7 linked regions of the Homo sapiens genome follow. The protein of the gene in region 1 interacts with the protein of each later gene in a pairwise test. Each region holds a gene or a part of one and is shown in the gene's direction. Other genes may lie near its edges.

The links.
Region 2: the proteins of ARL13B (region 1) and ENTPD3 interact in binary tests that used the Homo sapiens proteins (3 or more experiments, as listed by UniProt).
Region 3: the proteins of ARL13B (region 1) and MOSPD3 interact in binary tests that used the Homo sapiens proteins (3 or more experiments, as listed by UniProt).
Region 4: the proteins of ARL13B (region 1) and TMEM43 interact in binary tests that used the Homo sapiens proteins (3 or more experiments, as listed by UniProt).
Region 5: the proteins of ARL13B (region 1) and SLC2A5 interact in binary tests that used the Homo sapiens proteins (3 or more experiments, as listed by UniProt).
Region 6: the proteins of ARL13B (region 1) and TM6SF2 interact in binary tests that used the Homo sapiens proteins (3 or more experiments, as listed by UniProt).
Region 7: the proteins of ARL13B (region 1) and CD151 interact in binary tests that used the Homo sapiens proteins (3 or more experiments, as listed by UniProt).

The regions. Positions count from the first base shown.
Region 1 is NC_000003.12:94,042,655-94,046,154, forward strand, and holds part of ARL13B (ADP-ribosylation factor-like protein 13B), read left to right. Parts: intron 1-360; coding exon 361-586; intron 587-3,500. UniProt on the Homo sapiens protein: Cilium-specific protein required to control the microtubule-based, ciliary axoneme structure. May act by maintaining the association between IFT subcomplexes A and B. Binds GTP but is not able to hydrolyze fit; the GTPase activity remains unclear.
Region 2 is NC_000003.12:40,385,795-40,389,983, forward strand, and holds the start of ENTPD3 (ectonucleoside triphosphate diphosphohydrolase 3), read left to right. Parts: upstream 1-1,389; 5' UTR 1,390-1,467; exon of another isoform or gene 1,468-1,597; intron 1,598-2,251; 5' UTR 2,252-2,263; coding exon 2,264-2,303; intron 2,304-4,189. UniProt on the Homo sapiens protein: Has a threefold preference for the hydrolysis of ATP over ADP.
Region 3 is NC_000007.14:100,611,244-100,615,339, forward strand, and holds the start of MOSPD3 (motile sperm domain-containing protein 3), read left to right. Parts: upstream 1-1,296; 5' UTR 1,297-1,548; coding exon 1,549-1,753; intron 1,754-1,950; coding exon 1,951-2,026; intron 2,027-2,233; coding exon 2,234-2,463; intron 2,464-3,623; coding exon 3,624-3,788; intron 3,789-3,908; coding exon 3,909-3,940; 3' UTR 3,941-4,096.
Region 4 is NC_000003.12:14,131,552-14,135,051, forward strand, and holds part of TMEM43 (transmembrane protein 43), read left to right. Parts: intron 1-28; coding exon 29-123; intron 124-994; coding exon 995-1,044; intron 1,045-1,311; coding exon of another isoform or gene 1,312-1,314; coding exon 1,315-1,384; intron 1,385-2,187; coding exon 2,188-2,258; intron 2,259-3,218; coding exon 3,219-3,340; intron 3,341-3,500. UniProt on the Homo sapiens protein: May have an important role in maintaining nuclear envelope structure by organizing protein complexes at the inner nuclear membrane. Required for retaining emerin at the inner nuclear membrane.
Region 5 is NC_000001.11:9,066,836-9,070,975, reverse strand, and holds the start of SLC2A5 (solute carrier family 2, facilitated glucose transporter member 5), read left to right. Parts: upstream 1-1,340; 5' UTR 1,341-1,439; coding exon 1,440-1,472; intron 1,473-4,140. UniProt on the Homo sapiens protein: Functions as a fructose transporter that has only low activity with other monosaccharides. Can mediate the uptake of 2-deoxyglucose, but with low efficiency. Essential for fructose uptake in the small intestine.
Region 6 is NC_000019.10:19,263,866-19,267,083, reverse strand, and holds the end of TM6SF2 (transmembrane 6 superfamily member 2), read left to right. Parts: intron 1-474; coding exon 475-594; intron 595-2,210; coding exon 2,211-2,420; 3' UTR 2,421-2,718; downstream 2,719-3,218. UniProt on the Homo sapiens protein: Regulator of liver fat metabolism influencing triglyceride secretion and hepatic lipid droplet content. May function as sterol isomerase.
Region 7 is NC_000011.10:831,602-835,751, forward strand, and holds the start of CD151 (CD151 antigen), read left to right. Parts: upstream 1-1,350; 5' UTR 1,351-1,425; intron 1,426-2,391; exon of another isoform or gene 2,392-2,466; intron 2,467-2,928; 5' UTR 2,929-2,990; intron 2,991-4,150. Other genes in the region: CRACR2B (EF-hand calcium-binding domain-containing protein 4A), read left to right, coding at 1-108. UniProt on the Homo sapiens protein: Structural component of specialized membrane microdomains known as tetraspanin-enriched microdomains (TERMs), which act as platforms for receptor clustering and signaling.

The DNA.
Region 1 (3,500 bases):
TGGGTGATGTATGTCTGTACATGATATAGGTATGTATGTGTGGGGGTTGGCAGAGAAAATCATCTCTTAGTGATTATATACTGAACAGATTATATACGGAATAATACAGATGAATAGTAGTCATCTCTAGATTGTGGAATTACTGGTAATATTTGTTTGCTTTTGTTATACTTTCTGTTTTACTGAATGTTTGACATTTAGCATCTTTTAATGATGTATTCATGAAATCATTTTTAAAATAGAAGTCTCACAGTGTCCTTGAAGTTACAGAATCCTGTTAAGGTATTTGATTTCCTCTCCCTTAAAACTATCTTAGATAAAACCATCATAGTAAAGATAATGTATTTTATTTTTTGTTAGAATGAAGGAAAACTTGAAAGAGAGAAAAAAAACCAAAAAATGGAGAAAGACAGTGATGGCTGCCACCTGAAACATAAAATGGAGCATGAGCAAATAGAGACACAAGGCCAGGTTAATCACAATGGCCAAAAAAATAATGAATTTGGACTAGTAGAAAATTATAAGGAGGCATTAACACAGCAGTTAAAGAATGAAGATGAGACAGACCGGCCATCATTGGAATCAGGTAATAAATCTAGTTATTTAAAGTAATTATCTTATGTATATATAAATAAAACTTATACTTCATCTCATTTTTTATGTTTGTTTTTACAAACGAGTACTTCAATATTTTTCTGTCTTCAAATGCCATATTTACCATGATTTTCTCAAGGTCTTTTATTATTCAGTTTGTTCCTAACCTGTTTTTCCATGACTTAAAATGTGGTCCTTTGTAACTTATAAGGATTTCAGCAGAAAATTCCATTTTTATTTTCATAAATTTGGGATACAGCATAGCTCTCAAGAATCCTTGGAATAGCCCTCCCCCTCCTCCCCCTCCCCCCTCCCTCTTCCCCTCTCCCTCTTCCCCTCTCTCCCTCCCCCTCCCCCTCTCCCCCTCCCCCTCCTCCCCTCCCCCTCCCTCTCCTTCCCTCCCCCCTCCCCTTTCTTTCTTTCTTTCTTTCTACAGTCTCCCTCTCTTGCCGAGCCTGGACTGTACTGCCATGATCTCGGCTCACTGCAACCTCCCTGCCTCGGGCTCCTGTGATTCTCCTGCCTTAGCCTGCCGAGTGCCTGGGATTCCAGGCACGCGCCGCCACTCCTGACTGGTTTTTGTATTTTTGGTGGAGATGGGGTTTCGCCATGTTGACCGATCTGGTCTCCAGCTCCTGGCCTTGGGTGATCCGCCCACCTCGGCCTCCCGAGGTGCTGGGATTGCAGACGGAGTCTCGCTCACTCAACGCTCAATGTTGCTCAGGCTGGAGTGCAGTGGCGTGATCTCGGCTCGCTACAACCTCCACCTCCCAGCCGCCTGCCTTGGCCTCCCAAAGTGCTAAGATTACAGCCTCTGCCTGCCCGCCACCCCGTCTAGGAAGTGAGCAGCGTCTCTGCCTGGCCGCCCATCGTCTGGGATGTGAGGAGCCCCTCTGCCCGGCTGCCCCATCTGGGAAGTGTGGAGCGCCTCTGCCTGGCTGCCACCCTGTCTAGGAAGTGAGGAGTGTCTCTGCCTGGCCGCCCATCATCTGGGATGTGAGGAGCGCCCCTGGCCGGCCGCCCTGTCTGGGAAGTGAGGAGCGCCTCTGCCCGGCCGCCCCGTCTGGGAGGTGAGGAGCGCCTCTGCCCGGCCGCCACCCCGTCTGGGATGTGAGGAGCGTCTCTGCCCAGCCGCCACCCCATCTAGGAAGTGGGGAGTGCCTCTGCCCGGCTGCCCTGAATGGGAAGTGAGGAGCGCCTCTGCCCGGCCACCCCGTCTGGGAAGTGGGGAGCGCCTCTGCCTGGCTGCCCCGTCTGGGAAGTGAGGAGCGCTTCTGCCTGGCCGCTCCATCTGGGAGGTGAGGAGCGCCTCTGCCTGGCCGCCACCGCATCTGGGAGGTGAGGAGCGTCTCTGCCCGGCCGCCACCCTGTCTGGGAAGTGGGGAGCGCCTCTGCCCGGCTGCCCCATCGGGTAGGTGAGGAGTGCCTCTGCCCGGCTGCCCATCGTCTGGGAAGTGAGGAGCGCCTCTGCCCGGCCACCCATCGTCTGGGAGGTGAGGAGCGCCTCTGCCCGGCCGCCCCGAATGGGAAGTGAGGAGCGCCTCTGCCCGGCCGCGCCGTCTGGGAAGTGGGGAGCGCCTCTGCCCGGCCGCCCCGTCTGGGAAGTGAGGAGCGTCTCTGCCTGCCCGCCCCTCGTCGGGGAGGTGAGGAGCGCCTCTGCCCGCCGCCGCATCTGGGAGGTGTACCCAACAGCTCCGAAGAGACAGTGACCATCAAGAACGGGCCATGATGACGATGGCGGTTTTGTCGAAAAGAAAAGGGGGAAATGTGGGGAAAAGAAAGAGAGATCAGATGGTTACTGTGTCTGTGTAGAAAGAAGTAGACATAGAAGACTCCATTTTGTTCTGTACTAAGAAAAATTCTTCTGCCTTGGGATGCTGTTAATCTATAACCTTACCCCCAACCCTGTGCTCTCTGAAACGTGCTGTGTCAACTCAGGGTTAAATGGATTAAGGGCGGTGCAAGATGTGCTTTGTTAAACAGATGCTTGAAGGCAGCATGCTCATTAAGAGTCGTCACCACTCCCTAGTCTGAAGTACCCAGGGACACAAACACTGCGGAAGGCTGCAGGGAGCTCTGCCTAGGAAAACCAGAGACCTTTGTTCACGTGTTTATCTGCTGACCTTCTCTCCACTATTATCCTATGACCGTGCCACATCCCCCTCTCCGAGAAACACCCAAGAATGATCAATAAATACTAAAAAAAAAAAAAAAGAAAGAAAGAAAAAAAAGAGTTAAAATGCCAGAGCCCCCAACTGATCTGTAGATTTAAGGCAATTCCAAACAAATCCCAGCATGAGTCTTTGTAGATATAGGCAAGTTCATTATAAAATATATGTAAAAGTAAAGGACTGGAATACCCAAAACAATTTTGAAGAAAGATCAAGGTTAAAGACTCATACTACCCAATTTAAGACATACTATAAAGTAGTGGCCGGGCACAGTGGCTCATACCTGTAATCCCGACACTTTGGGAGGCTGAGGCGGGAGGATCACGAGGACAGGAGATCGAGACCACAGTAGAGACCCCGTCTCTACTAAAAATCCAAAAAATTAGCCAGGCGTGGTGGTGGGCGCCTGTGGTCCCAGCTACTCAGGAGGCTGAGGCAGGAAAATGGCGTGAACCTGGGAGGCAGAGCTTGCAGTGAGCCGAGATGGTGCCACTGCACTCCAGCCTGGGCAACAGAGCAAGACTCCATCACAAAAAAAAAAAAAAAAAGAAAAAAAAAAGACATACTATAAAATAAAACCACAGTGATCATAACAGTATAGTATTGACTAGAGGATAGACACAGAGATCAATAAAACACAATAGAGATTCTAGAAATAGATCCCCAAAATATGGTAATTTTAATGAGTTTCATTGAGGTATAATTGACTTACAACAAACTGCACATATTTATAGT
Region 2 (4,189 bases), about 54 Mb from region 1:
CCTTATGTTTCATTGTCCCACAGCTTTCAAAGAAAACAAGTCTTTTAATTCAGCAAGTATTCACTGAATGTCTGACACCCCCAGTGCAGACCCTGTCCCAATCCCCCAATGGGGTCCACCTCTATCCAACTCTGGGTGAATGACCATGGTGCTCTTGCGCGCGGGCACACACACACACACACACACACACACACACACACACACACAGGCACACACACATAACTCAGGCTTGGGGCCCACCTCTCTGGGCTCAGAGGTATCAAAGCAGGGGCATTCCTATCTTAAGGACTTCTTGTCTTAGGGGCTTTGGCCCCACCTGCACAGGACAGAAAATTAGTGGATTTCTAGGAGAAAGCAGGCTATGGCAGGGTATAGCCAGGGACTCAGCTCTTCCTTCCAGACATGCAGGAACCATAAGGAGGGATGGTCAAACAGGGCCTGCTTAGGCCTCTTGCTGGGATCACTCCAAGGGTCTCTGGGGTCACTCAGAGGAGCCGGGAGGCTGCCTGCTGCTGTACACTGAGACAGACTCCTGGGGTGTTTGGATCACGGCAGCCCACATGCTGCCTTTTTGTTATCTTTTCTGTTTTGCCTCTTCCGGGCTGTACTTGTCTTGAGTTTTTGGCCTTATGACATCCATATTAAATGGGGTAGGGCAGAGCATTGCTCAGTAAACAGCAAGAATGGCCCTGGGCATGGCCAAGGCAGTTCTGCTAAGTGTGAAAGGGAATGTGCCTGCCATACTTTGTGCTTTAGGCCCAAGTGACCTAGGGGCCAGCCTGCCTACTGGCCTCACTCCCAACATTACAGGTGTTTGACTCTACTCCACCCCGTGGAGAGACGGAGCACAGGAGCCACCCACCGGGGGACCACATAAGGTCATGCACACCCACAGAGTGCCCAGTCCCTGCCTGGCCTTGTCCCCATTTTCCCTCCACCTAGGGTTGGGGTGACAATGGAGGTAACTAGAAGACAGATCAAAAGGTTCTTGGTCTTGACACAGATGCAAGAAGGAGGCAGATAATAGACACCTCCCTTCCCCCTCGCCCACATAGGCTCCGGTGGGTTCTCAGGGCAAGGCCTGGCTCCCTCCTCTCCGACTTCAGGTACAGGTGAGTGTGGAGGGAACTGAAAGAGGAAAGGTGAAGTGCTGTTTGGCTTCGACCTGGAGGGGGACAGAAGGCTCTCTGGGCAGGCAGGGCCGGTCTTTTGGCAAGAGGCGCGCTCTCTCTCCCTTCCCCTTCCATCGAGGGCTGGGTGTGAAGGTGAGAGCAATCAGAAAAGAAGGTGAAGAGGTACTTGGCCTTGACACGGACGGGGGGGGCGGTCCCAGGCCGAGGCCGCCCCGCCCCCGCCCCGCTATACCCGGCGCCGCCTCCCGGCGTCTGAGCTGACACCTCCTTAGCGCTGGCCGCGGGCCGCCTCTGCGGCAGCGCTAGTCGCCTTCTCCGAATCGGCTCCGCACAGGTAAGATCAGGGGACCCGGCGCCTGAGCTGCCGAGGAAGGAGTCGGGGGTGCTGCGTGAGACTGAGAGTTGGGAGGCAAAGAAACAAAATCGGATTTCCTCAGAGGGCCAGAGGAAGAGACTGAAACACGGTAGCCCCAAATCCTTGGGCGGCTGGGAGGTGGTCCCTGTCATGCCCACGACGGGTGGGCGCGTCTTTACCGACAGCCTGCATGGATCCGCAGATGTGCTGGGCGCTTAGATGCCTGCGGCTATGCAGAGACGCAGTCCAGAGAGGTGACCCCAGATCCTGGTGGGGGCTGGATCCCAGGGCCCCGACATCCCTTTGCAATTTCCAGCCAGCAGCTAAAGACTCCCTTCCCGGGGCTTTAGAGAGGCTCCAGGCTCGCGATCCATGAACACACAAAAACCTTCCTTGCTCATGTTCTGAAAAAAAGCCCCGCCTCAGCTTTGTGAATGTTAATAATAGGGGGAAGATTTGTTCTCTCTTGGGTGTGTGTACAGGTGGAACAATCTGCAGAAAAAGACCTTTTTTCGGAAAACCTTTTCAGTTTGAAGTTTCAGCAAATCCATTTTTCATTTCCTTTCATTTGGGGAGATGACATGAAATTTAAGCTCCAGCTTTGGGGCTGTCTCTGAAGTTCTGGGGTTCGGCTTACCTTTCCCGGGATGAGGTTTTGATTTGGAGGAAGTAAAATGGGTTTTGTCTTAACCTGGGCTCGTTCTTTAAACTTGTGAGGCCGGGGCGGTGGACTTACTGACATCCTGTATTCTCTCACCTGCAGCTAGGAGAAAAGATGTTCACTGTGCTGACCCGCCAACCATGTGAGCAAGCAGGTTAGTATCTCTCAGCAGGTAGCAAGCGTGGTTTTGCCAAATCGCAAGAGAACCCCAGCTTCGGCCTACAGTTTTTCATCCATATCCCCTGCAAATGATTGTTTAACTTTATTGGTTTGAGACTCAGTACTCAGCTGGGTTTCAACACCGGCATTCCTCAAATAAAAGTAATGCTTTTCATCAAAGCCACACAAAACAAGGACTAACATGCATGTTTCACTTAAATGGTTTTTCCGGTTTGTATAATCCATTAATTTGGCCCTTGTGGTTTCCCTTAGCTAGCTGTGTGTAACGTTTGCTTTAGAATACTGTATTGTTGATTTTGTGATCAATTGTACAGTACTTGGATCTTTCCTGTATTCCCATCCAAATGTTGCTGGCACAGTGCCTACAACACCCCCACCCCTCACTGTGAGTCAGTGTTGTTATGGTTGATACTGCAGGCACAAGTGCAGGATTTTCTCACACTGGAAGGCACACACACACAGACACACACACACACACACACACACACACACACACACACACTTCTAAGCTTGCCCCGCCTGCCTCTAGAGCACTTTTTGGAGTTGCTCATGTGGAAGCCCAGAAGGCTCTGGCTTCTCCAAGCTCAGGTAGGTACCTTGCAATTACCATGTTTGTCCAGCCCTAATGACAGCACAGCTCTAGGCTGCATTTCCTAAATGAGTAAGACCTGGTCTCATCCATTTTGCTTTGTAATAAGCTTTTCTGCAAGGACAAGAGTTTGCTTAAGGTAATCATAGCTTTTTACTTGAAAACTGCTGAAACACAGAAGACTTAGGAGGCCAGCCACGTAGCTGTGGTCAGGAAACTGCATACATATCACACACTCCTCCCCCATGGATAGACATTCTTTAGTCATGCCCCTAAATTGGGTATTCTTGTCTTCCAAAAGGATATGATTTTAGGATAGTAAGGGCAATCTATATGAACTTTTATTTTTGTAAAGGGACATTGCACTTGAGGAGCTGTTTTCCTTTGATCTTTAGGTTTTCCCCCAAAACACTTTGAAATGTTAACACAGATTGTAACGTCACTCATACAGACTAACCTGTTACATTCCTTCCAAAGGACAAGTTTAACTTGGCAGATTAAATTTCTACCCCATTTTGTTAGAGGGAAAAAATCCCTTAAACTTCTATAACTAACACTGACAAATGCATTCTTTGAAAGCTAATGCAAAAGTTTGCCTCTGTGGATTAACTGGTTCCTGTACTTTTATTTGGAATCACAGAAAAGTGATACAGGACCTCTTTACATGCTCTGCAGGTCAACTCCATGGCAGTTGGCTCTCCTTTCCATTGCTATTACCCACAATTCTGTAATGAGTAACCTTGTGTCTAAGTCATTTTACACATGTGGAGCTAGTTCTGTGGGATAACTTCCCAAAAGAGTGATTGTGAGTCAGATGGCATGCTTATTTGCAGTTTTCATAAATATTGACAAGTTGCCCTCCATTGATGCTGTACCAGTTTACACTTTCAATGACAAGGTAGGAGGATTAAGGTGTTAAGTGACCAACTTTGACACCAAGAAGTGTCTGTGACTGCAGCTACACTGCAGGGGAATCAGTTGAGATGGAAAGAGTTAGCTGTTCTGAGCCATGAAGACCTACTGCGTGACTGCCCTCCTGTAGCAAATGTTGTGATGTGACTGAATTTGGGGGCTGAATCTAATTATATCGTGGGCGCATAGACATGCCCTGTTATTCTTCTGGGAAAATGGCTTACAGAAATAATGGAGGGGTAAAGCATAGGTTATAATGATCTAGGAATAATGTTCTGGAATAAGACAGGATCTATCCAATTGCTGTTCAATTGATCTTCCTATAATGATGAAAATGTTATATGGCTGCACTGTCCAAT
Region 3 (4,096 bases), on another chromosome or scaffold:
CAGACTTTGAGCCTGGGGAAGGAACAGTGGCTCTCATGCACTTTGGGAGGCTTAAGTGGGAGGATCGCTTGGGCCCAGGAGTTCGAGAACAGCCTGCAGAACATAGCGAGATCGTCTCTACAAAAAATTACAAAAAGCCAGGCATGGTGATGCACGCCTGTAATCCCAGCTACTCGGGAGGCTGAGGCAGGAGAATCGCTTGAACCCAGGAGTTGGAGGCTGCAGTGAGCAATGATAGCGCCACTGCACTCCAGCCTGGGCGACAGAGTGAGACTCTGTCTCTAAAAAAGCAAAAAAGAGGGCGGGCACGGTGGCTCACGCCTGTAATTACAGGACTTTGGGAGGCTGAGGCAAGTGGATCGCCTGAGGTCAGGAGTTCGAGACCAGCCTGACCAACATGGTGAAACCCCGTCTCTACTAAAAATACAAAGAATTACCCGGGCGTGATGGCGCACGCCTATAATCCCAGCTACTCGGGAGGCTGAGACAGGAGAATCGCTTGAACCCTGGAGGCGGTGGTTGCAGTGAGCCGAGATCGTGCCATTGCACTCCAGCCTGGGTGACAGAGCGAGACTTCGTCTCAAAAAAAAAAAAAAAAAAGCAAAGAAAACAGGCTTGGTTCCTGCAGAGGCTTCTAGAGCCTGGAATGAAGAGGAGGAAAAGGGCTTCCCGGTGGGAGATTGACTTGGACCATCTCAAGAATAGGGAGGAAAGAACAAAGCCCAGTTCGAAACCCCGCCCCCGGTTCTCTGAGTTACTTCAGGGCTCGAGTTCGAGCCAGTACAACTGTTACGTCACCGGAATCCAGCCAATCGCAGACGACAGAAGGAGGGCGTTGTTTGGTCTTTCAGCACACCAATCGGCGTATAGTTACGGCAGAAACAAAGACGTCCTAGCCAATGACAGAGGCCGTACGGCGGAAGTATAGAAAAGGACTCTCTGGAACATGGCAACATTAATCTGACCACAAGCTGACTGGCAGGTGCTTTAACCACAAGGTGGGCATCCTAACGCGAGCGACCGTTTTGAGGCAGAAGCCCGATGGGGCCCGTGTCCGAGCTTAGGGAGGGGCCGGAGACGCAAACACAGGTCTCCCAGGAAGCAGGCGGCGTCACAGGTCGCTCTGCAGGCGCCCGCTGCAGCGGGCGGAGTCTGGCTGGAGAGAGGAGGCGGGCGTCCGGGAACGCCCGGAAGGGGCGAGGCCAGCGGCGGGGCGGGGCTTATGGAGATCGTGAGCTGGGCGTGAGGAGAAGGCCGGGTTGGGAGCTGCGAGGGGCCGGGTTTAGCGGGGTGGGCGTGGCCGTCGAGGTGGGGCTCGGCGGGTCCGAAGGAACCTGGGGCAGAGCTGGAAGAGGAAAGGTCTTGGGGGCCCTGGGCCTGGGTCTGCGGGAGCCCCATCTAGCGGGGTTCCAAGGCGGCGGCGGCATCAGTCGAGGCCCTGCTCCGGGAGCTCATCTTGTCCCCTTTCGCCCCTCACGCCCCCCAGCTCTGACTCCAGGCCCTGTCCCCTGAGCTCTGCCCTCGGATGTCCGACCGCCCAGAGCCTGCATGCGCCGTGGGGCGCCCCAGGACCAGGAGCTGGTGGGTCCGGGGCCCCCTGGGCGGGGGTCCCGGGGCGCCCCTCCTCCCTTGGGACCCGTTGTCCCGGTCCTGGTCTTTCCCCCGGATCTAGTATTCAGGGCGGACCAGCGGAGCGGACCCCGACAGCTGCTGACCCTCTATAACCCCACAGGAACTGCGCTTCGCTTCCGAGGTAAAGGGATCGGCGCCTCGTGGGGGCTGGTGGCCGGACACTGGGGGGTTGTGTTGGCTGGAGGAGTCAGATGGGTAGGGTTGCACGTCCAGCTTTGGTGGACTGGGAAAGTCATGTCCAGCCTCCGGGGCAGAAGGCAGAGGGGACTTAAATGACCCACATGGCAGGGCTTGTCTGTGTGTGTCTCTATCCCCCAGTCCTGTGCACAGCACCTGCCAAATACACGGTGTTTGACGCAGAGGGATATGTGAAGCCCCAGTCTTGCATTGACATGTGAGTGAGCTGGGAGGGTGGGGAGGCTTGTGGAAGCCAGGGGTCGCTGCCACCTGTTGTCTGAGGTCTGAGACCTTGCCCCCTTTAACCTATTTGCCCTATCCTCTGCCTGTGCCCCTAAGGGAGAGACTTCTGGGGGGAGGCCCAGATTTCCTTGGATTACTGCCTCATTCACCCCAATGGGCTTCTCTCCTACCTTGGGACCAGTGTGATTCGCCATGTGGCACCCATTCCCAGCCACTATGATGTCCAGGACCGCTTCCGCATTGAGCTGTCTGAGGAAGGAGCTGAGGGCCGAGTGGTGGGACGCAAGGACATTACCTCCATTCTGAGAGCCCCAGCGTACCCCCTTGAGCTTCAGGGACAGCCAGATCCAGCGCCTCGCCCAGGGCCTCCTGCTGGGACACCACCACCCACGGCCAGACACTTCCAGGAGCGTGAGTTGGGAGACTGGGATCTTGAGTTCTGTAGGGAGGGAGGAACTAGCATTTCCCTAGAGATGAGATAAATTGGATTTGAAGAAGTCTCCTGGTTCAGTCTTTTGTCTTTTGGTGGAAACATTCCTCCGAGTTGAGATTTTATATCAGGTGAGGGGGAAAAGACTTACAGCTTCCCTGGTTTCTGACTTCTACTTAGAGGAAAAAGTTCTTCCTTGACTGTAACCGCAGTACTTCCTATCATGTGGTAGCTCAGTTCAGTTCAATAAGAAACCTGTATTGAGCAATTAACCCTGTACCAAGTTGTGTGCTGGGTATGAGATCAAGAGAGGTCCCTGCCTGTCGGATAGGTCCACAGAAGAGAGAAAATGAATGCTGAGGGACTGGAGGAGAGAGTTCTTGTGGTGGTGGGGACAGAGGCTGTAGGAAGGAGAGGACACTTGCAGTGTACCCCTGGAGGGCAGTAAAAAGTAGATACAGGGTGTGATGGCTCACGCCTATAATCCCAGTGCTTTGGGAGGCTGAGGTGGGCTGATAACCTGAGGCCAGGAGTTCAATACCAGCCTGACCAACATGATGGAACCCCGTCTCTACTAAAAACACACAAAAATTAGCTGGGAGTGGTGGCTCGCACCTGTAATCCCAGCTAGTCGGGAGGCTAAGGCAGGAGAATCACTTGAACCTAGGAGGCAGAGGCTGCAGTGAGTCAGGATTGTGTGGCTGCACTCCAGCCTGGGTGCAACAGAGTGAGACTCCGTCTCAAAAAAAAAAAAAAGTAGATACAGGGTGTGGTGACTCACACCTATAATCCCAGTGCTTTGGGAGGCTGAAGTGGTGGGAGGATTGCAATTGCTCGAGGCCAGGAGTTCAAGATCAGCTTGGACAACATAGCAAGACCATCTACAAACAACTTAAAAATTAGCCGGGCATGGTAGCATGAACCCATAGTCCCAGCTACTTAGGAAGCTAAGGCAGGAGGATCACCTGAGGCCAAGAGTTCCAGACCAGCCTGGACAACGTAGTGAGACTCCATCTCTACAAAAAATAAAAGATAATTAAAAAAAAAAAGTAGATACATCTTCCTTGTTCAGGCTTCTCCCTGGAGGACCTGGGCTGGGCAGGAGTGGGGGCTGCAGCATCTGATGAGTCTTGTTTCTCAGACCCCCGCCAGCAACTGGCCACCAGCTCCTTCCTCCTCTTCTTGCTGACGGGGATTGTGTCTGTGGCCTTCCTGCTGCTCCCACTCCCGGACGAACTCGGCAGCCAGCTGCCTCAAGTCCTGCACGTCTCCCTGGGACAAAAGTTGGTGGCCGCCTACGTCTTGGGTGAGGACAGTAGTGGCCAGGGACCCAGGCCCCAGGAAAAAGGGAGAAGGGACGGGAGGAGAGCTAACAGAGCCCCAGGGCTGCCCATGCGACCCTATTCTTTCTTTGTCCCCCCTCCAGGCCTCCTCACCATGGTGTTCCTCCGGACCTGAGCTCCGTGCTCAACCCCCAGCCCACCCCACCCTCCCTGGGCAGGGTCTTGAGGCAGCCACTGTGATGCTCATACCTTACCTTGCCTCCTACCCTCTTCTCTTTCCTGCCTACTCCCCACTCCTCCCTGACAAAAAACACCCAGGGATTTGTACTCA
Region 4 (3,500 bases), about 80 Mb from region 1:
TTTTTGGTTTCTTTGATTCTGTTTGAAGCTTTTGTCTGATCCAAACTATGGGGTCCATCTTCCGGCTGTGAAACTGCGGAGGCACGTGGAGATGTACCAATGGGTAGAAACTGAGGAGTCCAGGTGAGCTGTTGGGGTGAAAACTCTGTTGGGGTAAAGGAGGAGTGAAGTGTAGGTGTCAGGATAACATGCAGATGTCTTTCATTTTGATACCTTTGAAACTCAAGTATAACATCTTCCTATCAGAAAAGTGTGAAATGATCCCCAAATTAATAGCCAGTGATTTGGAAGTGGCAAAAATCCAGTGAAGAGTGGCTCCAGGAGGAAAGGGGGATTGAGTTGCTCCCACATCTGGGAAGTTCCAGAGATGCACAAGCTTGAAGCATGACTTGGAGCAGGCCTGAAACACTGTCATTAGGATCAGCATGTCAACCCCGAGACCCCACTGCATCTCTCTGTGTTCAGCCTTCCCATCAGCTGTGTTGGTCCCATCTTTGCTCTACTTACAGCTTATCGTTTCTGACAGGAGTCCCAGGGCAGGTTCTCATTGATCAGGGCTGGGGTCACCTGGAGCTGGGGGTGGGTTCAGCCCCACCTGAATCATATGGACTGTGACCGACAGGTGGGGAGGTGGTGGGAGGAGCAGGAGAAGGGCAGCTTCAAGAGGCCCCCCGCAGGGCTGTCCTGGAGCAGAGGATGCAGCCAGATCTCTGAGCCCAAAGGGCAGGGCTGGGCCCCTTGGTGTAAGGCCAGTGCGGGCAGATTTCAGCTCAGGATGGGAGAGCGCTTTCCTCCAGGTAGCGCCTTGGAGGGCAGGAGCTGGCTGTCTGTCAGGAGTGAGTGCCCTGTCTTGGGGCTGGTGTAGAGAAGGCATCTGCCGTATCTGGGGAGTCTGATCTGGTAGCCCTGAGGTTGCTTCCTGCTCAGATGCTTAGAGATTAGACTGCCTGGGGCGACGAGGCTAACCCCCGTGGCTGCTTTGCTTTCCCTGCAGGGAGTACACCGAGGATGGGCAGGTGAAGAAGGAGACGAGGTATTCCTACAGTGAGTGCTGGGCCCCTTACGTGGTCTCTGCCCATGGTGGGGGCCCACAGTGGTGGCTGGACAGCAGGGCTGTTGGTGGGGCCATGGGAAGGATTCAGCACCAGGCATCAGGATCCCTGGGTGCAAGTCTTCAGAGCCCTGCTTTCCCACCCATCCATTGAGGCTCCCTGACCCACCCCTTTGGCTGTGAGATAGGAGGAGCTGGGCTGGTGGGTCTCAGCCGCGTGCCACTCCTACCCGGGCTCTGAGTTGATTCCTCTCCCTGAGCAGACACTGAATGGAGGTCAGAAATCATCAACAGCAAAAACTTCGACCGAGAGATTGGCCACAAAAACCCCAGGTGAGAGCCAGGCCCAAGGCCTGAGTGCAGCTTTGTCTACACTGGCAGGTCTCCAGCCTCAGTTTCTTCATCTGAATAACAGGATTGAGTTAATCCTGCCTCGTGGGTTGAAAATGTGGGACATGGGTTTGAGACCAAGCCCTGTGCTGGGCACCAGGAACACAGAGACTTGTCTCCCCTGACCCCAGACAAGCTCCCCGCAAACAAGTCACAAATATAAGGCCTGCACTAAGCGTCTAAGGGGATTTGCACACACGGGGCCGGGGAAGCATTTTGTTAATGGTTTGCCATGGGTGGGAGGACAATCAGGACAGGCTTTCCAGAGGCAGCGGCATTTGTTCAGGCTTCTCAGGATTTCAGCAGAGGGAGGTTAGCTCCACGGCATGCCAGTGGTGAGGCGGGCATAACACTTGGGTGTGGCTAGAGAGCAGGCCTTGTTCAGCAATGGTCTGGGCTGTGCCAGTAAGATGGTTGGGATGGAATGCTCTGGGAGGGGCTAGTGAGGGGTGTAAAGTCCATGCAAGATACATCTGACAGCAGTGGGTGGGGCAGGACAGGCTGGCAGGGGTCTAGGCAAGAGGGTAGGAAGCTCCGGGGAACAGGAGACAGAGTGAGGGTGCTCAGCCCAGGGGAGGGGGCACAGGGCCCCTGGGGGTGGACAGGACAAGATGTCTGCTGCGCCTGGGCTAATCTGGACTTGCAGGAACCCCCGGGTGGGGACCCTGCCCAGCACAAACAACCCAAAGGGACCCGGGCAGCTCCCACACCGGTGCCCATCTCTGACAGCTTCCTCTCTCCCACAGTGCCATGGCAGTGGAGTCATTCATGGCAACAGCCCCCTTTGTCCAAATTGGCAGGTTTTTCCTCTCGTCAGGTAAGTCTCAGGCCTCTCCAGAGGAGCTCGTGCCAGAAGCACAAGGCCCCCCTAGGGCCGGAGCTCCCAGTACTCAGCCTTCAGAGGGCTAAAGGCACAGGATCAGTCTGCACCTTTCCCAGCACCATGCTTTGGGGGCCAGGGGAAGGCGAATCCCCAGGAAGCAAGGGCTGACGTAGAAACCCCCACCCCACTCCATCCTACCAGGTTCCTCTGAAATCTGGGTTGTTCCAGAGAATGACTCAGGCATGCATCCTCACCCTGCTGCGTGCCGGTGTCTGCTGAGTAGACTCTGCTGAGACAGTCCTTCCTCAAGCAGACTCCGGCTAGTAGTAGACATGTGGTGGCTCAGTGCTCTCAGCCTAGGGCTCCCCCTCTCTGAGTTCCACCTGTCCCAGGAAGGCACTAGCTTATCACAGGCATCCCCCATTGACTCCAAAGAGAAGCTTGCAAGGGATAAGGTGGCACCATGGGCCAGAGTAACCCTGGGGCTCTGTTCCTGGGCCTGACCCATGAAGGTGGGAGAGGATACCAAGGGCCCAGATAGTCCTGGGGAGGCTGGATGATCCTGGGCCTGGCCTGGCCGCTTTCTGTGTGCTTTGTTGCTGGATGGTGCCTGTGTGCCAGCTGGGCCTGCCCTCAAGTAGCTCTCAACCCAGGAGGTGAGTCAGGCTTGGACGTGGATGGCCGTAACCTTGATGGAAGGGAAAAGGGCTAAGGCCACTCCCAGTGCTGTGGTCACTCTGACTTGGTGGGAGAGGGCACAGGGAAAGCTTCCTGGAGGAGATGGTCTAACCCAGGGGAAGCCGTGGACGAGACAGAGTCAGAAAGAGGCACTGCAGGTGGGAGTGCCACGTGTGCAGGCTCCAGGGGTGCAGTGGAAGGGGGTCAGGCCAGGGACTTTGCAGATTGAGGTTTTCACCTGGTCCCCTGGGTTTCTAACCACTCTGGTCCCCTCAGGCCTCATCGACAAAGTCGACAACTTCAAGTCCCTGAGCCTATCCAAGCTGGAGGACCCTCATGTGGACATCATTCGCCGTGGAGACTTTTTCTACCACAGCGAAAATCCCAAGTATCCAGAGGTGTGCGGAGAGGCCTGGGCTCTCCAAATAGGAGGGTCAGGGCGCTAGGATCAGGTTCCTGCGCCAGGCAGATTCAGTTCAGTCGCATGCACAGCTGCACTTGGCCAAGTGCAGCTGAGTGGGAGAGGCCCTCTGGGTGACGGCACAGCCTGGGCACGGG
Region 5 (4,140 bases), on another chromosome or scaffold:
CTATGCGTTAGTCACAAGTCAGTGTGCTAGGACAGTGATACGCAGAAGAAAAAGACAGGCAGTAGCTGGTGAAAGGGAATGCTGAGTTCTCCCTTGTGAATAGGGACCCCCCCGACCCCCCAACACACACACACACACAGACGGCCACGCTGCTAGGCTTCTCACAGTCTCCCACCCTGAGCAACCCTGGGGATTTGCTGCTAATGCAAGGAACAGTGCCTAACACAGGCTCCCAGTCTCTGCTTGTTTAAAGATGCATGAGATTCAGAATCAATCACTAAAGTAACTGGATTTACGCCACAGCAAATAGAACTGGGAGTATGTTCTGTAAAGATGAAAACCTGTGGGACTTGTGAGACTTTGGATTTTGGCCACTTGCGCTGGTGTGCCCTGTGGCAGCTGAATGAGTGCCAAACATGGGGGGCTGACAGTGGCCTGGCCTTGAGATGGCCGGACCCGGACCAGCAGGTGTGACTCATTTTCCCTGCCCTGCCTGGAAAGGGGTTCGAGGTATTTACCACCTTCCCAGTAGTGATGAATACACAGAAAGTAACATCCCTAGGTCATTCTGAGCTCCTTAAAATGGAAAATAAGAGGCCGGACACGATGGCTCACGCCTGTAATCCCAGCACTTTGGGAGGCCAAGGAGGGTGGATCACTTGAGGTCAGGAGTTCGAGACCAGCCTGGCCAACATGGCAAAACCCCGTGTCTACTAAAAATATAAAAATTAGCCGAGCGTGGTAGTGCACGCCTGTAATCCCAGCTACTCAGGAGGTGGAAGCAGGAGAATCGCTTGAACTCGGGAGGCGGAGGTTGTAGTGAGCTGAGATCATGCCACTGCACTCCAGCCTGGGACAAGAGCGAAACTCCGTCTCAAAAAAAAAAAAAAAAAAAAAAAAAAACAGAAAATGAGAAACTTTCCCCAAACAGTATTACACGGTGACTTGGGCAAAACTGACTCTCCACCAAGAGACACTTGACTGTAGTTTTCCTGGCAGGGAGAGCATCTTTGAGGTCTCTAGTGGCCCAATCTGTTGCCCTCAGATTACCTGGTGTCATGTAGGGTGGAGGACAGCTGTTGTTTGCCATGCGTTCCTGACAGAAATAACCCTTCCAGTCATTCACCATGAGCCTGACTGGTAGAGACTTTAGCAATGGGGAAATACCGTAGACTGTTCCATCAGGACAATGCTGGGCCTGCAGTCCCCAGGGGGCACCCACTTACTTAGCCAAACCCCAGACGTTTCATTTAAAAGCAGAAGTGAAAGGAAGACCAGGTTCCTGAAAGGGTTATTCTGACTTAATCTGGCTATAAAAATGCTATTGGCTGTTATTTGGCATGGCCAAAGTGCACCCAGAATGTCTTCTCTCTCCATTCAGTGCACGCGTTACTTTGGCTAAAAGGAGGTGAGCGGCACTCTGCCCTTCCAGAGCAAGCATGGAGCAACAGGATCAGAGCATGAAGGAAGGGGTGAGTGTGTTGCTCAGGGAAAGGGGCCAAGAGCAGGCTTGGCTGCCAGGGCCTGTGCAGCCTTCCTGGAGAGTCGCTGGGGGGCTCCTGGTGTTGCAGAGGGAACTCTGTGTTGGGAGGGATTATGGTGGGGAGAGGGGGAAAGTCTTGTCCAGCAGGTGGTCTTTTATAGGGAGGAGAGAGGTTTAGAGACAAGTGCTCTGTGGAAATCATTCTACTGGAACAGCCTTTAACAGCAGGATCTGTAACTGAATGGAAGAGACCCAAAGGATTCATTTGTCCCAACTTGAACCAAACATGTTAGCTGCAAAATCCTTCTATGGTTGGTGAGATGTTTCGCTCTGCTTTCGTTTTGCTTTTGGCTTCAGGGCAGTTAATTTTTTCAGCAAGTAACATAGCTGAGCTGCATGAAAGCAAGATAAACTCAGAAAAGGCGTTGCTTGATTTGAATTTAGTTCAGATCTGTCACGTAGGTTTCCTGCCTTTTAGATCCTGAGGCTCCCTTGTTTTAGAGAGGAAAGATTTTCATGGACTCCTGCAACGTAATTGCAGTTTACTTTCTAGATTCCCTTGATTGAGGAAAATGCATAATGTCAGAAAAGTAACACTGACTTATTAACACTTTATAAGAATTTGCATTTATTCATCACAATAGCATCTGCTTATATTTGGAGTGGAGGAAGGATAGTGCACATTTTTGCAAAACAGCATTTGTTCAGGCATGGATGTGAGACCCTCACCATAGGCAGACTGGAAACATGCTCTGTAGCACATAGATTAAGAGTGGGTCTTGGGAGGCTGAGGTGGGTGGATCACCTGAGGTCAGCAGTTCGAGACCAGCCTGGCCAACATGGTGAAACCCCATCTCTACTAAAAATACAAAAATTAGCCAGGCGTGGTGGCAGGTGCCTGTAATCCCAGCTACTCAGGAGGCTGAGGCAGGAGAATCACTTGAACCTGGGAAACAGAGGCTGCAATGAGCTGAGATCACGCCATTGCACTCCAGCCTGGTCAACAAGAGCGAAACTTCATCTCAAAAAAAAAAAAAAAAAAAGAGTGGGCCTGGGAAGTAGAAGCCCCCAGGATTCATTCCTGCTCCATCCTATTCTAGCTGTGGGACTTGGGTAAGTTCTTTAACTCTTCAGTGCCTCAGTTTTCTCATTTGTAAAATGGGAGTAATAACCATACCGCCTCATAGGGTGCTGGAGCAATTAAATGAGATAATGCATGTAAAGTACCTGGCACAGAGTGAGTTCCCCGTAAATGTTACTACTTTTCTTTCTCTCTCTCTCGCTTTTTTTTTTTTTTTTTTTTGACACAGAGTCTTGCTCTGTCACCCAGGCTGAAGTACAGTGGTGCGATCAAGGTTCACTGCAACCTCCACCTTCTGGGCTCAAGCGATCCTCCCACCTCAGCCTCCCAAGTAGCTGGGATTACAGGCATGCACCACCACACCCGGCTAATTTTTGTATTTTTAGTAGAGATGGGGTTTCACCATGTTGGCCAGGCTGGTCTAGAACTCCTGACCTCAGGTGATCCGCCCGCCTCGGCCTCCCAAAGTGCTGGGGTTACAGGTGTGAGCCACCGCGCCCGGCCATCGTAAATGTTACTACTTTTCAATCATTCTTTAGGCTGGTTTCTCCACCTCCGCGTGATTTCCATTTGGCACTGGCTAACGCTTCGTTGTAGGGGCTGTCTTGTGTGTTATAAGATGTTTAGCCGCGTCCCTGGCTCTACCTTCTAGACGCAGTAGCTCCCTCCCCCAGGAGTGACAACCGATGTCCCCGAGAGGGCAGAATCCACTCCCAGCCCTCAACTGAGAGGCACTGCTTTGGAGTCTACTCAGCCCCTTCGCTTGGGTCATCTTGTTTGTCTTACAACTAAGAAAGTGTTAGACAAATCAAGTGTCATCACCTCCATTTTATAGAAAAGAAACGGAGGTGATGAGGACTTAGGTGTTTGGGGTCCAGGGAGGTCCTCCGCTGTCCAGAGAAAGGCACAACTGCCACGTTCCCCACGTCCACCAAGTCCAGCTGCAGAAAGGAATGGAAACACCCCCACGTGGCAGGCCCTGAAACTGAGTAACACATTGCGAAAGGAAATGATTCAGATGGCCACATGCGAGAGGCATGGGCTGACCCAGCTGCCTGCTGCCTCAGCCCTCCAGGGAAGGAAGCCTCCTCTGGGCCAGAGGGATGAAGGTGGGGATGGGCTTCCCGCTCCTGAGAGCAGCCTGCCCCTTGGGGAGAAAGCTGGGGCGTGCTGGGCTTCCCAAAACACTCTGAAGGAAGCGATCCCAATGGTCTGTAAGAATCCGGGAAATCATTAAGTGCAGCCGAGAGGGGAGGTAGGAGCCAAGGAGAAATGCGGGGGCAGGCGAAGGCTACAGAGGCTGCGCGGTCCGGGGAGGAGGGCGTCTGGCAGTATGGAGCCAGCTGCCTGCCCCTCAGTGGTTGTGTGGCAGTGGCCTCACTGGCCTTTTCTCTTCTTTTTCTTTCTTTTTCCTTTTTTTTTTTTTTTAATTTTGAGACAGGGTCTTACTCTGTTGGCCAGGCCAGAGTGCAATGGTGGGATCATAGCTCACCGCGGCCTTGAAGTCCGGGGCTCCAGCAATCCTCCCACCTCAGCCTCCCGAGTAGCTGGGACTACAGGCATGTAGCACCACCCT
Region 6 (3,218 bases), on another chromosome or scaffold:
GAGCTCTGCTTTCTTTGCATGGCTTCACTCTCAGGCAGTCCCTTTATGGGGTGGCAGAGACAGCCTGTGGCAGCTTCAGGCTTCCATGCACCCCACTCAGCCACCCCAGAGCAATGTGAGCCCTTATTACCCCCGAGCTTAAGCACAAGTCTTAGGCAGGCTCAGATTGGCCCAGCGTGAATCACTTGCCCATCCCTTACTGAGCATCATGGACAGGGGGCTGGAATGCTCCGACTGGCTAGGCCAGGGTCGCATGCCACTTTCAGAGAAAGGTTAGTAGGTTTGGTGTATGTGTTCGGGGGTTGGGGGCAAGGATCCCCAAGGGAAATAGAGGAGCACTTTGCAGAGAGCCTGGGTGGGGTCTGAGGCCATCCAGATCCTTCCTCAGGGCCTCCACCTCAGGGGTCTCAGGAGACCCACCTGGGGTAGCTGCTCATCTCACAGGCTGGTGCCCCTCTCCTCCCGCCCCTGCAGATGCTGATGTACATGTTTTATGTCCTGCCTTTCTGCGGCCTGGCTGCCTATGCTCTCACCTTCCCTGGTTGCTCCTGGCTTCCAGACTGGGCCTTGGTGTTTGCTGGAGGCATCGGCCAGGTGAGGTGGCGGATGGGTGGGTGAGCAGGCATGTGGGAGGGAATTTCTGTCTACTCATCAATGCCTTTGGTGTCCTCCCTGGGCACTGTAATGATGAGCCCCCAAGAGGCCCCAGCCCCAGGCCCAATATCCCAGGATTCCCTAGTCTAGGGGAGACAAAGCCAGATACAGACACTCCAAGCCCCATGAAAATAGGGACAGGGGCTGTGAAGGATTCCAGAGGGGAAAGGTTTCCTAGAAGCAAGGCATAGGAGCTAGGCTTTGATGTACGAGGATGAGTTCTCCAGGCAGGGAAGGGCATTCCAGGAATGGGAACAGCACAAGGAGAAGCACAGAGGGAGAGAGTGACTTAGCAGGGCCATAACCCAGGTAAAGGCAGATAAGAGAAATTGGCAGCTGGATGCTGAAGGCTTTGAACTCTGGGACTAGGGGCTTGTACTGAGGGTGATGGGGCGTTTGAGGAGGAGTTTGAGCAGTGAGGGGCCCAGTCAGAGCTAGGAGCCTTTTTCTGGGTTCCTGATGAAAAGTGCTAAATCCTGGGCCCCGGCCAGGGAAGTAGGGACCAGGAAAACATTTAGAATCCACAGGATTTGTGCCAAGACCTCTGGGGTGGGGAAGACTGGGAGGAGGATCTGGAGCCAGGTCAGAGAGAGATGGGGTGCAGGGCCCAGGAGATGGGGTTAGGCAAGTTGGGGGGGACTCACAGACAAGTGGACAAGCACAGGGAGGGACAGACAGGACATGTAAGGGCAGGAATCTTTACAGACAGAAGGCCAGGTGAGGTGGCTCACACCTGTAATCCCAGCATTTTGGGAGGCCGAGGTGGGAGGGCTGCTTGAGCCCAGGAGTCTGAGACCAGCCTAGGCAACATGGCAAAAACCTGTCTCTACAAAAAGTACAAAAATTAGCTGGGCATGGTAGCACGTGCCTGCTGTGCTAGCTACTCGGGAGGCTGAGATTGGAGGATCACTTGAGCCCAGGAGGTTGGGGCTGCAGTGAGCCATGATTGTGCCACTGCACTCCAGCCTGGCCAACAGAGCAAGACCCTATCTCTAAATAGATAGATAGATAGATGGATGGATGGATAGATAGATAGATAGATAGATAGATAGATAGATAGATAGATAGAAATTTTAAAAATAGGCCAGGCATGGTGGCTTATGCCTGTAATCCTAGCACTTTGGGAGGCCAAGATGGATGGATTGCCTGACCTCAGGAGTTCGAGACCAGCCTGGGCAACATGATGATACCCCATCTCTACTAAAAATACAAAAAATTAACTGGGCATAGAGGTGCACGCCTGTAGTCCCAGCTACTCAGAGGAGGCTGAAGCACGAGAATCACTTGAACCCAGGAGGCAGCGGAGGTTGCAGTGAACCGAGATTGCACCACTGCACTCCAGCATGGGCAACAGAATGAGACTGTGTCTCAAAAAAAAAAAAAAAAAAAAACAGATAGATGGACTGGAGATGGGAAACAGATAGATGAGCAAAGCCCGAGAGGTGGGGATGGGCATCCCCTGGGTTCTGCCTGACCTACCTGGGGGGCTGTCGGTGATGCTGGGATTTCAGTTCCTTCCTGGCCCCTGACATCCATCTTCCCTGTCTGGCTACCAGGCACAGTTCTCGCACATGGGGGCTTCCATGCACCTGCGCACACCCTTCACCTACCGTGTGCCTGAGGACACCTGGGGCTGCTTCTTCGTGTGCAATCTGCTGTATGCGCTGGGCCCCCACCTGCTGGCCTACCGTTGCCTTCAGTGGCCCGCATTCTTCCACCAGCCACCACCCTCCGACCCCCTAGCCCTCCACAAGAAGCAGCATTGAGAGAGCTGTGGACTCAGGACCCAGGACTCTGTTTACGTGCCCAGTCAGCCCTACCTGGGGAAGCGGGGGTTGGGTGTTTTAGAGACAGGAGGGACATCTCCGGGTGTCTTTAGTCTTGGCTATGGTAGTTTCAGTCCAGTGGGTGGGATGGAGACCAACGACCAAGTGTTCCTGCAAGGAGAGCCTCCCACAGCTGTCACCATGCTCCAACTCCCACACAAACGCTTCTACCCCTTCCAGAACTTACCCATCATCCCCCCATGGATCCTTTCAGTAAAAACCCTTTCAATTTCCAAAATATCACTGCCTAAGTGTTTCAGGGTGCAGGGGCAAGGGATCCTCTTCTTGGCCCCCATGAGGGCCCACCTATCACTGCCATCGTGGTTGCCAGGAGTGAGAGGTGCTGGGATAGCAGAAGGCGGCCTCTGGTTGGTATGCACGGCTCATCTTCCAGATGGGAAAACCGAGGCTCAGTATGGACAAGAGACCTGCCCAAGGTCATGGCCAGAGAGAAAAGTTCCTGCTCTACCAATAAATCATAACTAATAGCATGATACATTTATTAAGCACCTACTGTATACCTTGACTGCTACATGCTGGATCTCACTCCATATTCCAGATGGGGAAACCAAGGCTGCAGGAGGTGAAGGTCCTGGTCTGAGATCATTCCCCCGCTCAGTCCCCAAGGCATGGCTGAGCTAAGAGATGGAGCCCCAGCCTGTTGGACCACAGAAACCACAACTCTGCCTCTCCTATCTGGTCGGGTTGGGCTCATTTTAGGGGAAACTGAGTCCTGGA
Region 7 (4,150 bases), on another chromosome or scaffold:
AGGAAGGCTCTGACAACAGCCCGCCTGCCTGGGCCCACCTGCTGCTGCTGCTGTTGCTGGGCTCGGCCCCCCAGACGCGGCTCTGGCCACCTTCCCAGTGCCCGGTGACCAGCCCCGAGTGACTCACGGACCATGAGCTAGAAGCTGCCCTTGCAGGAGGCTTGTCATGGGTCGGGGGTGCCCACTCAGGATGCAGGCTCTCCCCAGTGGGCCCCAGGCTCGCCTGACTGAAGACATGAAGGACCTAGCCTAGGAGTGGTCAGGGTCCCGGGAGTGGCCAGGGTCCCGTGTGTGCCCTCTGCCAGTCTTCGCTCTGTCCCCGTTCAATCAACCCCATCTCAGTTCAGCAGAAAACCCCCTCGTCAAATAAAACCCACTGACTGCACTGCGTCCTCCTGGGCCTTCCGTGTGTCTGGGAGCCACAGCCTGTGTGTGCCACATGGATGAGGTGGGCACCTGTGCACGCGTGCTGTGTGGGTGAATACAGGGAGCGCGGGCCTGTGGCGATGGGGCTGAGGTCCTGCGTGTCCTCTTGTGTCCCTGGTCATGCCCCAAACTCACACTACCCATCAAGGCTGGAGCCCCTCGGGGCCCTCGCCAGTGTGTGGATCAGGGCTCCCCACTGTCTCGCCAGGGAGGCCGGGCAGGTTCCCGGCCTCAGTCGGCCACCCCCTCCCATGCTGGTCCTCCCCTGTGGCTGTGATGAATGAGCTTGGTGGGTGGGCAGCCCCCTCCTTCCTCACTCCCACTCTTGGCGTCTTGGTGCAGCCCTAGGCCGGCCCTGCCCTTCGTCCCTCACCTCCTCGCACCGCTCCCAGTGGTCCCTTCCAGTCTGGAGGGCATGGGCCCCCCAGGACCCCATGGGTATGTCTCGCTGGGACCCCAGGCCTGCCCGGGTCTCCAGGCTGTCCACACTGCACGTACAGTAGCCCTTCTCCCGCATTTGCCCACAGCGCTAGGCCCTCCCACGCCCCAGGCCGGCATCGGTTCTGCCGACCCCTGCAGCCTCTGGGCGGTTCCTGGGTGAGGAGAAAGAGATGGGGGTTGGGCATGGAGGAGGGCCGGGTCGCCACAGCCCAGGGCCTCTGGCTAGGCTGGTCGCCGTCTTACCTCCGGGCCCGCCTCCCGCCCAGCTCCTCCGTCCTTGGACGGGATGGGCCCTTGCTGGGCTATTGGCGCCCCCAGGGCTGCAGCTCGCCCGGCCTCCGCAGTGCCAGGTCGACCCCCAGCGCCTACACCCACGCGGGTTCAGACCTGCCGAGCGCCCGCCGCCGCGGGAGGGGCTTGAGGCCGGGGCGGGGCCGGGGCGGGGCGGGGCGGGGCGTCCCCCTCGTAGGCTCCGGGCCGCGCATTCTCAGCGCTGGGAGCCGCCGCCCCCGCAGCTGCTGCCGCCGCCGCCAGGGCCCGGACTCGGACGCGTGGTAGGTGAGTGCGCGGCCACGACAGCTCGGCCGAGCGGGGCGAGCGGGGCGAGGGGGGCGAGGGGCGCGAGGGGGGCGAGGGGCGCGAGGGGGCCGAAGGCCCTGCGCGCCCCAGCCCCGGAGGCCCAGCCGCAGGCGCCGGGAGGTTCCGGGAGGCCGCACCCACCGCCTGGCCCAGCTCCCTCGCCTGCCCCAGCTCCCTCGCCTGCCCTTCCGCGGGAGGCGGACTCCGGGCGGGTTGGGGAGGCGCAGCGGGAAGGAGAGGCGCCTCCCGGGCCCTTGGACCGGCCTGACGGCCCCCTTCAGCCCAGGGGTCCCGGGACGCGCAGCCTGGACACCCTGCTCATTGTCCCTGGACACGGCAGTCTTCCCTCCGCCCGCAGCAGCCCCCGCCCGCGTGCAAGTGGGCGCGCCATTGGCCGCGCCGGGCGGGGTCGGCGGCGGCGGTGACCTCATTGCAGTGCCCCGGGGACGCTTGGCAGGCGCGGAGTCCCAGGTCCCCCTGACTGGGGCTCCCCCTGATAGGGCGCGGGCCGCCCAGGGGCCTGGTGCAGGTCCCGGGGACTTGGGGAGGAACAGACAACTATTTCTGGAAGGCCCTTTCCCAGGGGGTCCAGAGGGACCAGGCATTCCTGGGAAGAGGGGCCACTCCTCAGCGGGTCGCCTGTGTCCTCGCGGTGGAGGACGCATCTGTGCCCAGAACCAACTTCTCCAGAAAGCCTGGGACCTTACAGCCAGGCCAGGGGCAGGTCCTTGAGGGGCTCACACATCCCCCCATCGGTGGCAGACGCACACCCCGCCCCCCGGTGGCAGACACATCCCCCCGCTGGTGGCAGGGTCTGCCTGTGCCACCCTTCCTGCGTGTATTTAGGCCCTGGCTCCTTCATGGAGGGTGAATATCCCCTCTCAGCTCAGTGGTAAGGTCTGTCCCCCTCCAGCTCCATTCCATGATGCCTCTTTCCCAGGCTGTAGCTGCCGCTGTTTGTGGGGGAAGGGCCAGTGATGGGTCTGGAGCGAAGGCCAAGAGTGGGGCACCTGGGGGAAGGTATGAGGTCCCTCCCAGGATCAGACTGTCCCGAAATGTCGTCTGCCTTGGGAGGCCAAGGCGGGTGGAACATCTAAGGTCAGGAGTTCGAGACCAGCCTGGTCCACATGGTGAAACTCTGTCTGTACTAAAAATACAAACATTAGCTGGGCGTGGTGGTGGGTGCCTGTAATCCCAGTGACTCAGGAGGCTGAGGCAGGAGAATTGCTTGAACTCAGGAGGCGGAGGTTGCAGTGAGCTGAGATCGTGCCATTGCACTCCAGCCTGGGTGACAGAGCGAAACTCCATCTCAAAAAAAGAAAAAAAGAAAAAAACAAAATGTCTTGTGCCTTGCCCCACCCTAGCCCAGACTAAAATACCGGGCTTGGCCACTCCTCTCTCTGCCTCCAGAATGAACCCGGCCCACTCTGGCCCTTGGGCCAGACCTGTAACCTGTGACCTGACATGTCCTTGCCCCTCTAGCCTAGAGTCCTGGGGAGCTTCTGTCCACCTGTCCTGCAGAGGAGTCGTTTCCAGCCCGGCTGGTGAGTGCTGGCCAGGGTGGGGCAGAGCAGGCGGGGCGGCGAAAGTCCAGACCTGGCTGTGCTGTCTGGAAACGTGGCCCAGGGCGCTCAGCTGCTGTCTGCACCCCACGCCCTCCCTGGCTTCCCCATGCTCACAGCTTGCCCACTGCTGCAGGTCGGGCGGGCACGGGGCATCTGGGGAGGGGCATAGCCTGTCTGTGCTGCCCCCTCAGGTTGGTGTGGGTCGCCTGTCCAGGAAAAACCCTCCCAGTCTGCCAGGCTCCACCTGCCTCCACGCTCCATTCTCCCCACCCCGGCCAGGATGAAGGAAGGGCTGCCCTTTAACAGACCGTAAACAGGCCTGGAGAGCTTAGGAAGGGGCTGAGCTGGGGCCTGTCTGAGCCCCTACCCCTCTGCTGTCTGAGTGGCCTCCTCCGCCCTTACTGCAGGCCCATAGGCTCCTGCCAGCCTGTGACGTGCGGCCCCGGGAATGCCGTGGGGAGCGGGCAGGCTGGCATGAGCTCACCGGAGGTACCCGCTAGGGCTTCCTCCCCCGGCCGCTAGCAGGGGTGAGTCAGCAGTGATGGCGGGAGGTCCTCCATGACCCCTGTCCTGTCTGTGGGCACCAGGGGTCTGTCCTGGCTGTCAGGGCTCCTGAGTCGCTAGGAAGTGACACGTCCTGTTCCCACAGGGGCTCATTCACAGGCCTCCCAGGACAGTGGCTGGCTCTGCCCCGACTTCTGGGCTGGCTTGGGTATCTGTGTCCCCTCTTTTTTTTCTTTTTTATTGAGATGGAGTCTCACTGTCGCCCAGCCTGGAGTGCAGTGGCACCATCTCGGCTCACTGCAAGCTCCGCCTCCCGGGTTCATGCCATTCTCCTGCCTCAGCCTCCCAAGTAGCTGGGACCACAGGCGCCCACCATCACGCCCAGTTAATTTTTGTATATTTTTGATGGAGATGGGGTTTCACCACAATGGCCAGGCTGGTTGTGAACTCCCGACCTCAAGTGATTGCACCTGCCTTGGCCTCCCAAAGTGCTGGCATTATAGGCATGAGACACCGCACCTGGACTCCTTTCCTCTACTTTCTTTGGGTTAATTTGCTAGTCTCTTTTTATTATTTATTTATTTATTTTGAGATGGAGTCTCACTCTGTCGCCCAGGCTGGAGTGCAGTGGCACC